Linked DNA regions of Homo sapiens. The protein of the gene in region 1 binds, or shares a complex with, the protein of each later gene. Each region holds a gene or a part of one and is shown in the gene's direction. Other genes may lie near its edges. The genes, in order: STRAP and GEMIN2.

Region 1 (3,924 bases):
TGAGAGAACTGAATTATTTGCCCAAGATCTGAAGTCACAGTGAATACCAGATCTGCCTAGCCTTTCTCTTTCCAAAACCTTGTGTTCTTTGTACTCTTACAACTTTTCTATTCTCTGGTGGGACACAGATGGGAGACAGAATAGGAACATTGGTCTAGTAAAGGGCTTTGAGAACTAATAAGGTGATGAGGCATTAGAAAGTAAATGAGAAAGGTTCATACTTAAAGGTACTACTTGAATATAACAGTGCTCCTAATCTATACATTTTCTCATTAGGTTCCATGGATTAAAATATTTATGGATCATTGTTGATCTATATCTCACCTTTCTGTGTGACAGAATAATTAGTGGACTGTAGGAAATTAAGAGGCAAAGTGTGTAAAAGAGCTCCACCTGGTGGCTCTCTATAGTCATAATAAAAATTGATTCCCTGAGAAATAGGCAGTGAGTTTTAGGATATGGAAATTGGAGGTTGAACTGGTAAGACTTTAAATCTACTTTCTATAGAATTAATGGGGTTTTCATTTACCTCTTTTTCTCCATCCTTAATGAGACATGAAGCCTCATTTGCTTTTTTTAGAGGGACAGTTTGAAACTAGAATGTGTGCTAGATTTGGAAAGGAATAATCTTACAGAGAAAGGGTCAATGATATACCACTTTTGTGATGAGAAATTAATTAAGTACAGGTTTTAATGTTTGCCTTAAGAATTTTCCATCTCCCCAGTAACACAGACAGTATTTTTTTTTTTTAGCATATCAATATTTAACCTAATAGTTAAAATTATCTAATAGCCCTCTTCTTTTTCAGAATCCTACAAGGGACACTTTGGTCCTATTCACTGTGTGAGATTTAGTCCTGATGGAGAACTCTATGCCAGTGGTTCAGAAGATGGAACATTGAGACTATGGCAAACTGTGGTAGGAAAAACGTATGGCCTTTGGAAATGTGTGCTTCCTGGTAAGAATTTTTATTCAGAATAATAAAATTTTTAAAATGCATGATTTTATGTCATTTTTAATCATTAATTTTATTTCAGGGTTCCTGTTTTCTATAAATTTTAAATTATATATTATGGTTTAAGCAGCGAGAAGCCCAGGATTATAAATTGGCCAGAGAAAGGGTCATGTTCCTTTGTTTAAATTTTTTTTGGTATGGCTGGGCACGGTGGCTCACGCCTGTAATCCCAGCACTTTGGGAGGCTGAGGCGGGCGGATCACAGGGTCAGGAGTTCGAGACCAGCCTGGCCAACATGGTGAAACCCCATCTCTACTAAAAATACAAAAATTAGCCAGGTGTGGTGGTACATGCCTGTAATCCCAGCTACTCAGGAGGCTGAGGCACGAGAATTGCATGAACCCAGGAGCCATGCATTGAGCTGAGATCACGCCACTGCACTCCAGCCTGGGCAAGAGTGACTCAGTCTCAAAAAAAAAAAAAAGAAAAATTTGTTGTACAATCTAGTCTGTTCCTAAATTTTTATACTAGCACATTTTGTGGCTGGAATAGATCTAATTCAAAATTTGCTGGAAGGCAATATAAAGAATTTACAAGTAAATGTATCTAATCTCTGAATAGTATTACTCACTGATCCACACCAATAAAGATAGACATGTTCTTAATAAAAAATACCTAGTTACTAATCCCTAAGTAGTTGCAGTATGAACCTAAAAGTAATTTTAAAGAAAGACATACTATTTTTAGAATCACAGTTATTTAAAAAGGAGTTGTTTTTATTATATTTTGTAGCCATTTTCCTGGAATAGTCTTATGTTGCTCTTCTTGCTTATTGAACACTGGAAATTACTTTAATAGTGTAAGTCATATAATCGTCATTGCTTTTCTTTTTACAGAAGAAGATAGTGGTGAGCTGGCAAAGCCAAAGATTGGTTTTCCAGAGACAACAGAAGAGGAGCTAGGTAAATGCTATGGAATTGACTTTTGTAAGAGTCTTGGGGGATTTAAAATTGAACTGTAACAGAAGTTTTACTCATTGGCAGAAGAAATTTATTAAATATGAACATATTTAAATAATGGAAACTTTAAATATTTATGCATGTATATATACATATTTATAAGCTAAATATTTAAATACCTACTGCATAGTAGTAATAGGCACAGAGATGTAGTATGGACACAACCGATGTGGTTACTCTTTCAGAGCTAGAGTCTAACTTAGGAGACATGCCAAAACACAAATTATTGTAAGGGGGATTAAAAAAAGCTTCCTAGAGAAGTGACATTTAAACTGGGAACTAAGGATGAGCAGAAATGATTTAGGTGAGGTCATGAGAGGGGGTGTTGGTAGGGACAGGATGGAAAAGTTCATAGCAGGAAAACTATGTTAACTAAAAGTTCAGAACCAAAAAGGAGCATAGCATATGAGGAACTAAAAGAACTTCTCCATGCCTCCAGGTTAAAGAGCAAAGGCAAAGTGAAGCTGGAGAAGCTAGATCATCTGAGGGCCTCATTTGCTGTATTAGGACTTGGAGAGTTTTATACTAAGAGCAATGAGAAACCTTTGAATTTTAAGAAGAGGACTTTAAAAGATTGCCTTGGTAGTTCAAGACCAACCTGGCCAACATGGTGAAACCCTGTCTCTACTAAAAATACAAAAATTAGCCGGTCATGGTGGCAGATACCTGTAATCCCAGCTATTTAGGAGGCTGAAGCAGGAGAGTAGCTTGAACCCAGGAGGTAGAGGTTGCAGCGAGCCGAGATTGCGCCACTGCACTCCAGCTTGGGTGTCAGAGAGAGACTCTGTCTCAAAAAAAAAAAAAAAAAAAAGGTTGCCTTGGCTGTTGCACGTACAAAGAATTGGACTGGGAACAAGAGTGAACATAAACCAGTTAGGGGGCATTGTAGTCTAGATGAGTGATCATGTAGGTTTTGTTTTGTTTTGAGATGGAGTCTTGCTCTGTTGCCCAGGCTGGAGTGCAGTGGCATGATCTCGACTCACTGCAGCCTCCGCCTCTGGTTTCAAGCAATTCTCCTGCGTAAGCCTCCTGGGTAGTTGGGATTACAGGTGCACCACCACGCCTGGCTAATTTTTGTATTTTTAGTAGAGATGGGGTTTCACCATGTTGATCAGGCTGGTCTTGAACTCCTGACCTCATGATCTGCCCACCTCGGCCTCCCAAAGTGCTGGGATTACAGGCGTGAGCCACTGCACCCGGCCTATCATGTAGTTTTTAATAAGGGTATTGCAATGAGAACAGAAAAAGGTAGATGGAGTTGAGAGTCTTTTGTTAGACTTGTTAGAATTGTGAGATTGATGAGTGGGGGTATCATGAGGAAGAAATATGCAGATTGCTGCCATGAGAAACTGGGTATGATGATTTTGGGGGAGGTTGGGAAGGTGTTTACCATTTACCCAATAGAGTTTTCCTTAAATTTTTTATTGTTAAGCACCTTCTTGCTAAAACAATGTTGATGGTTAATGTTTTGCTTTAAATAGCACTAAATATTAGGATTTGAATCACTAAAAGAGAGGGCCAGATCCTTCGAAGACATGACTTTAATTCCGGGTTTGTTATATAGCTGGAGTCTTTGAAAATTTAGGCCAGAAAGGGACCCTTGGAGGTTGAGTTATGGTGTAAGAGAATCTAGTGGATAAAACACATGAACTCTTTCTTCTTTGCCTTTTCAATGACATGAGTCTAGTTGTTAGTGGCATGTGCAGTTGCTCTCTTCTTTCCCTTACCACAGTATGCTTTACAAACACTTTTTCATTCCTTCATTACACAGAAATGTAGATTTGCTTCTTTCTTTCATTAAGTTGACTAATGTGACTTTTTTTTTTTTTTTTTTTTTTTACTTATAGAAGAAATTGCTTCAGAGAATTCAGATTGCATCTTTCCTTCAGCTCCTGATGTTAAGGCCTGAGCGTCAATCATATGTGCAGTTAGTATACAACTGACTAAAA
Region 2 (3,924 bases), on another chromosome or scaffold:
GGTCTCTATTAAAAATACAAAATTAGCCGGGTGTGGTGGTACATGCCTGTAATTCCAGGTACTCAGGATGCTGAGACAGGAGAATTGCTTGAACCCGGGAGGCAGAGGTTGCAGTGAGCCGAGATCGCGCCATTGCACTCCAGCCTGGGCAACAAGAGTGAAACTCTGTCTCAAAAAAAAAGAAAGTTGTACATACGAATAGGAAAAACAAGAACATTTTTAAAGTGAATCAAAGTTTGATCTGGAATGTTGGGACTGCAGGTTTTTTCTTGTGCTTGTGGTATTCTTCACAGTTTTTCTGCATCAAATATGTATTCATTTTGTAGCTGAAAACCCCATTTTAAAAGGGAGTGGGGATACATTGAGCCTGTCAAAGTATTTATAAAAGTGTCAAAAGATTATTTCATCTGTAGTATAGTTTCTTTGTATGTCCCCAGAGGACAAAATTATACAATTATAAAATGATTTCTATATCTGTCCATACAGAACAAAGAAAAAAATGTATCTTAATTTTTTCCAGTATTTATATTCATCTTAATGTAGTGTTCTGCTTACAAATGAGAACTTCCTATCATAAGAATATCTGAAACAAACTCTTTGGAGATCAGGGAATATTTTGAGGTATCCAATGTCCTGTGTCTGTAATTATAGGATACAAGAGATAACACCTGGCTCTCCAAATGAGGCTTTCTTGTCTATACCCAAACATAATATAGTTAAATGTTCTATGAATTTATTCATAGCAGATAATCAGGCATAACATTGGACATTTAAAAAATAAACTTCTGGTTCAGTATTTGTCTAAATATTAATTTTTTGAATTTTTTTTTAGGGAAGATGGCTTTATGCTTTATTGGCTTGTCTTGAAAAGCCTTTGTTACCTGAGGCTCATTCACTGATTCGGCAGCTTGCAAGAAGGTGCTCTGAAGTGAGGCTCTTAGTGGTAAGTTGCAACTTACTGTTTAAAATTAAAAGCACCCACCAATTTATATGGTGGTAAAGAAGGAGTTCAGTGAAATAGGAAAACACATGGAATATTTTATTGGTGGCAATTAGATTTGTAAAGCCCAAAATAATAGTAGCTTAAATAATATGGAAATGTTTTCTGAGATAAAGAAGTCTGAGCCGGGCGTGGTGGCTCACACCTATAATCCCAGCACTTTGGGAGGCTGAGGCGGGTGGCTCACCTGAGGTCAGGAGTTTGAGACCAACCTGGCCCACATGGTGAAACCCCGTCTCTACTAAAAATACAAAATTTAGCTGGGTGTGGTGGTGGGTGCTTGTCATCCCAGCTACTCAGGAGGCTGAGGCAGGAGAATCGTTCGAACCCAGGAGGCGGAGGTTGCAGTGAGCTGAGATTGCACCACTGCACTCCTGCCTGGGCAACAGAGCAAGACTCTGTCTCAAAAAAGAAGTAGGTAAAAAAATTAGATTTTTACTAAGATGGCAGTAACCCACCCACACCTTTGAGTTTTGTCATATGTGGCTTTCATCCTCATGCTCATCTTATGATCCAAGATGGCTGCTGTAGCTTCAGCCTTTTTTTTTTTTTTTTTTTTTTCTTTTATTGTGAGATGGAGTCTCGCTCTGTCACCGAGGCTGGAGTGCAATGGTGCGGTCTCGGCTCACTGCAACCTCCGCTTCCCAGGTTCAAGCAATTCTCCTGCCTTAGCCTCCAGAGTAGCTGAGATTACAGGTGCCCGCCACCATGCCTGGCTAATTTTTGTATTTTTAGTAGAGACAGGGTTTCACCATGTTGGCCAGACTGGTCTCAAACTGCTGACTTCAAGTGATCCACCTGCCTCAGCCTCCCAAAGTGCTGGGATTACAGGCATGAGCTACTGCACCTGGTGTGTGTGTGTGTGTGTGTGTGTGTATATATATGTGTGTGTGTGTGTGTGTATATATATATATCTTTATATATATATCTTTATATAATTCAGTAATGAATATATATAAGAACAGTAAGAATCCTGTGTCTTGACTGTACAGTGATTAATATATATTATATATATTCATATATATTCTATATATATCCTCACATATATTGTATGCATTATATAGAGGAACAATAAGAATCCTGTGTCTTGACTACAGTGATAAATATATTTATTCATATATGTATATTAATATATATTTATTATATATGAATACATATTCACTACAGTTAAGACACATATATAATATATATGAATATATATATATATATTCATCACTGTACAGTTAAGACACAGGATTCTTATTGTTCCTTTAGTAGGAACCAGGGAAAAATTTCCCCCAAGTTATCCCCCTTAGATCCCTCTTTATTTTTTTTTCCCTATTCAGAATCTTTATTTAAAAGATAGTCTTAGATGTTTCTCAAGGAATCATTAACTCTACAGTTCTCTGCTTTTTCTTTGAGGGCTCCTATTTCCACATGATGATTACTGTCATATAATAAAGTTTTCATGTTTCGTGTTTTACATCTTAATAGAAAATTTATTTCAAAAGTAATAGGAACAGACAATATTTAAATTTTTCTTTTTTTTTTTTTAGGATAGCAAAGATGATGAGAGGGTTCCTGCTTTGAATTTATTAATCTGCTTGGTTAGCAGGTATAGTTAATCCTTGGCTTCTTTATTATTTATCAGTGAGGTCAGTGAGGTTAGATCGTATTTATTACATTTGGTTTTTGTTTGGTTGGTTTTTTTTTGAGTCTCACTCTGTTGCTATAGTTAGGGTGCAGTGGCGCAATCACAGCTCACTAGAGCTTTAACTTCCTGGGCTCCAGCAATCCTCCCACCTCAGCCTCCTGAGTAGCTAGGACCACAACCAAGCACCACCACACCTGGCTAATTAAAAAAAATTGTTCGTAGAGACAGGGTCTCACTATGTTGCCCAGGCTGGTCTCAAAACTCCTGGGCTCAAGCGATCCTCCCACCTAAGCCTCCGAAAGTGCAGGGATTACAGGTGTAAAGCCACTGCATTCAGCCTGCATTTTTGTTTAATTGCCTGTGTCCTGCGTTCATTTTCAGTTGTGGCATATTTTTATTTAGTATCTGTTTTATTTCATTTCTTACATAGAAATTCTTCTTGGAATTTATTTGAAAACTTTTTTTGTTGTTTTGTTTTGAGACAGAGTCTCGCTCTGTTGCCCAGGCTGGAGTGCAATGGCACCATCTCGGCTCACTACAACCTTCACCTCCTGGGTTCAAGCAATTCTCCCCCCTCAGCCTCCCAAGTAGCTGGGCTTACAGGCACCTGCCATCATGCCCGGCTAATTTTTGTAATTTTGTGGAGACGGAGTTTCACCATTATTGGCCAGGCAGTAAAACACACATATTTATTTTAGGTCTCCTCCTGGACATATTTTTGTTCCATAGATCAGTGTTTTTATTTCATTGCCAGTACCTTTTTAAAGCTTTATAATATACTTAAATATTGGGAAGGCAAGTAATCTTGTTTCCATATTTTCACATATTCAATATCTAGTTTCTTGATCTACAATAATTATGCTGCTGATGATAATTAACATTTACTGGGCAATTTGTGCCAAGCATTTTTCTTAGTGAGGAACCCATTTAATCCTTCTAAGGTGGGTACTGTTAACAGTTTACAGATGAGGAAACCATGGCAGAGAGAGGTTAAATAATATTACTACCATCACAAAGCTAGTAAGTGTTAGAGTAATGATCCAAACCCAGGCAACTTTGACTCCGGAGCTAAACTTTTAACTATGCTGATCAAAAATTAAGCTAATACCTACCTCATCTGTTGGTAGTAGCAGTTAAATGAGATGATATAGCATTGCCCTACTTACTTTATGTATAGTATCTCTACTCTTTACAATAGATCAGAGTTGTGTTTTTGTTTTTGTTTTTGTTTTAATAAATTTTTTCCTTTCAGCTCTGTTGGACTTGATTTTTTTCCTTTTACAGATAATGA

Evidence for each region.
Region 2: STRAP (region 1) and GEMIN2 share a complex: the UniProt entries of both Homo sapiens proteins name them as parts of the SMN-Sm complex.

The regions. Positions count from the first base shown.
Region 1 is NC_000012.12:15,899,095-15,903,018, forward strand, and holds part of STRAP (serine-threonine kinase receptor-associated protein), read left to right. Parts: intron 1-809; coding exon 810-959; intron 960-1,852; coding exon 1,853-1,918; intron 1,919-3,822; coding exon 3,823-3,884; 3' UTR 3,885-3,924. UniProt on the Homo sapiens protein: The SMN complex catalyzes the assembly of small nuclear ribonucleoproteins (snRNPs), the building blocks of the spliceosome, and thereby plays an important role in the splicing of cellular pre-mRNAs.
Region 2 is NC_000014.9:39,131,126-39,135,049, forward strand, and holds part of GEMIN2 (gem-associated protein 2), read left to right. Parts: intron 1-832; coding exon 833-943; intron 944-2,535; coding exon 2,536-2,594; intron 2,595-3,924. UniProt on the Homo sapiens protein: The SMN complex catalyzes the assembly of small nuclear ribonucleoproteins (snRNPs), the building blocks of the spliceosome, and thereby plays an important role in the splicing of cellular pre-mRNAs.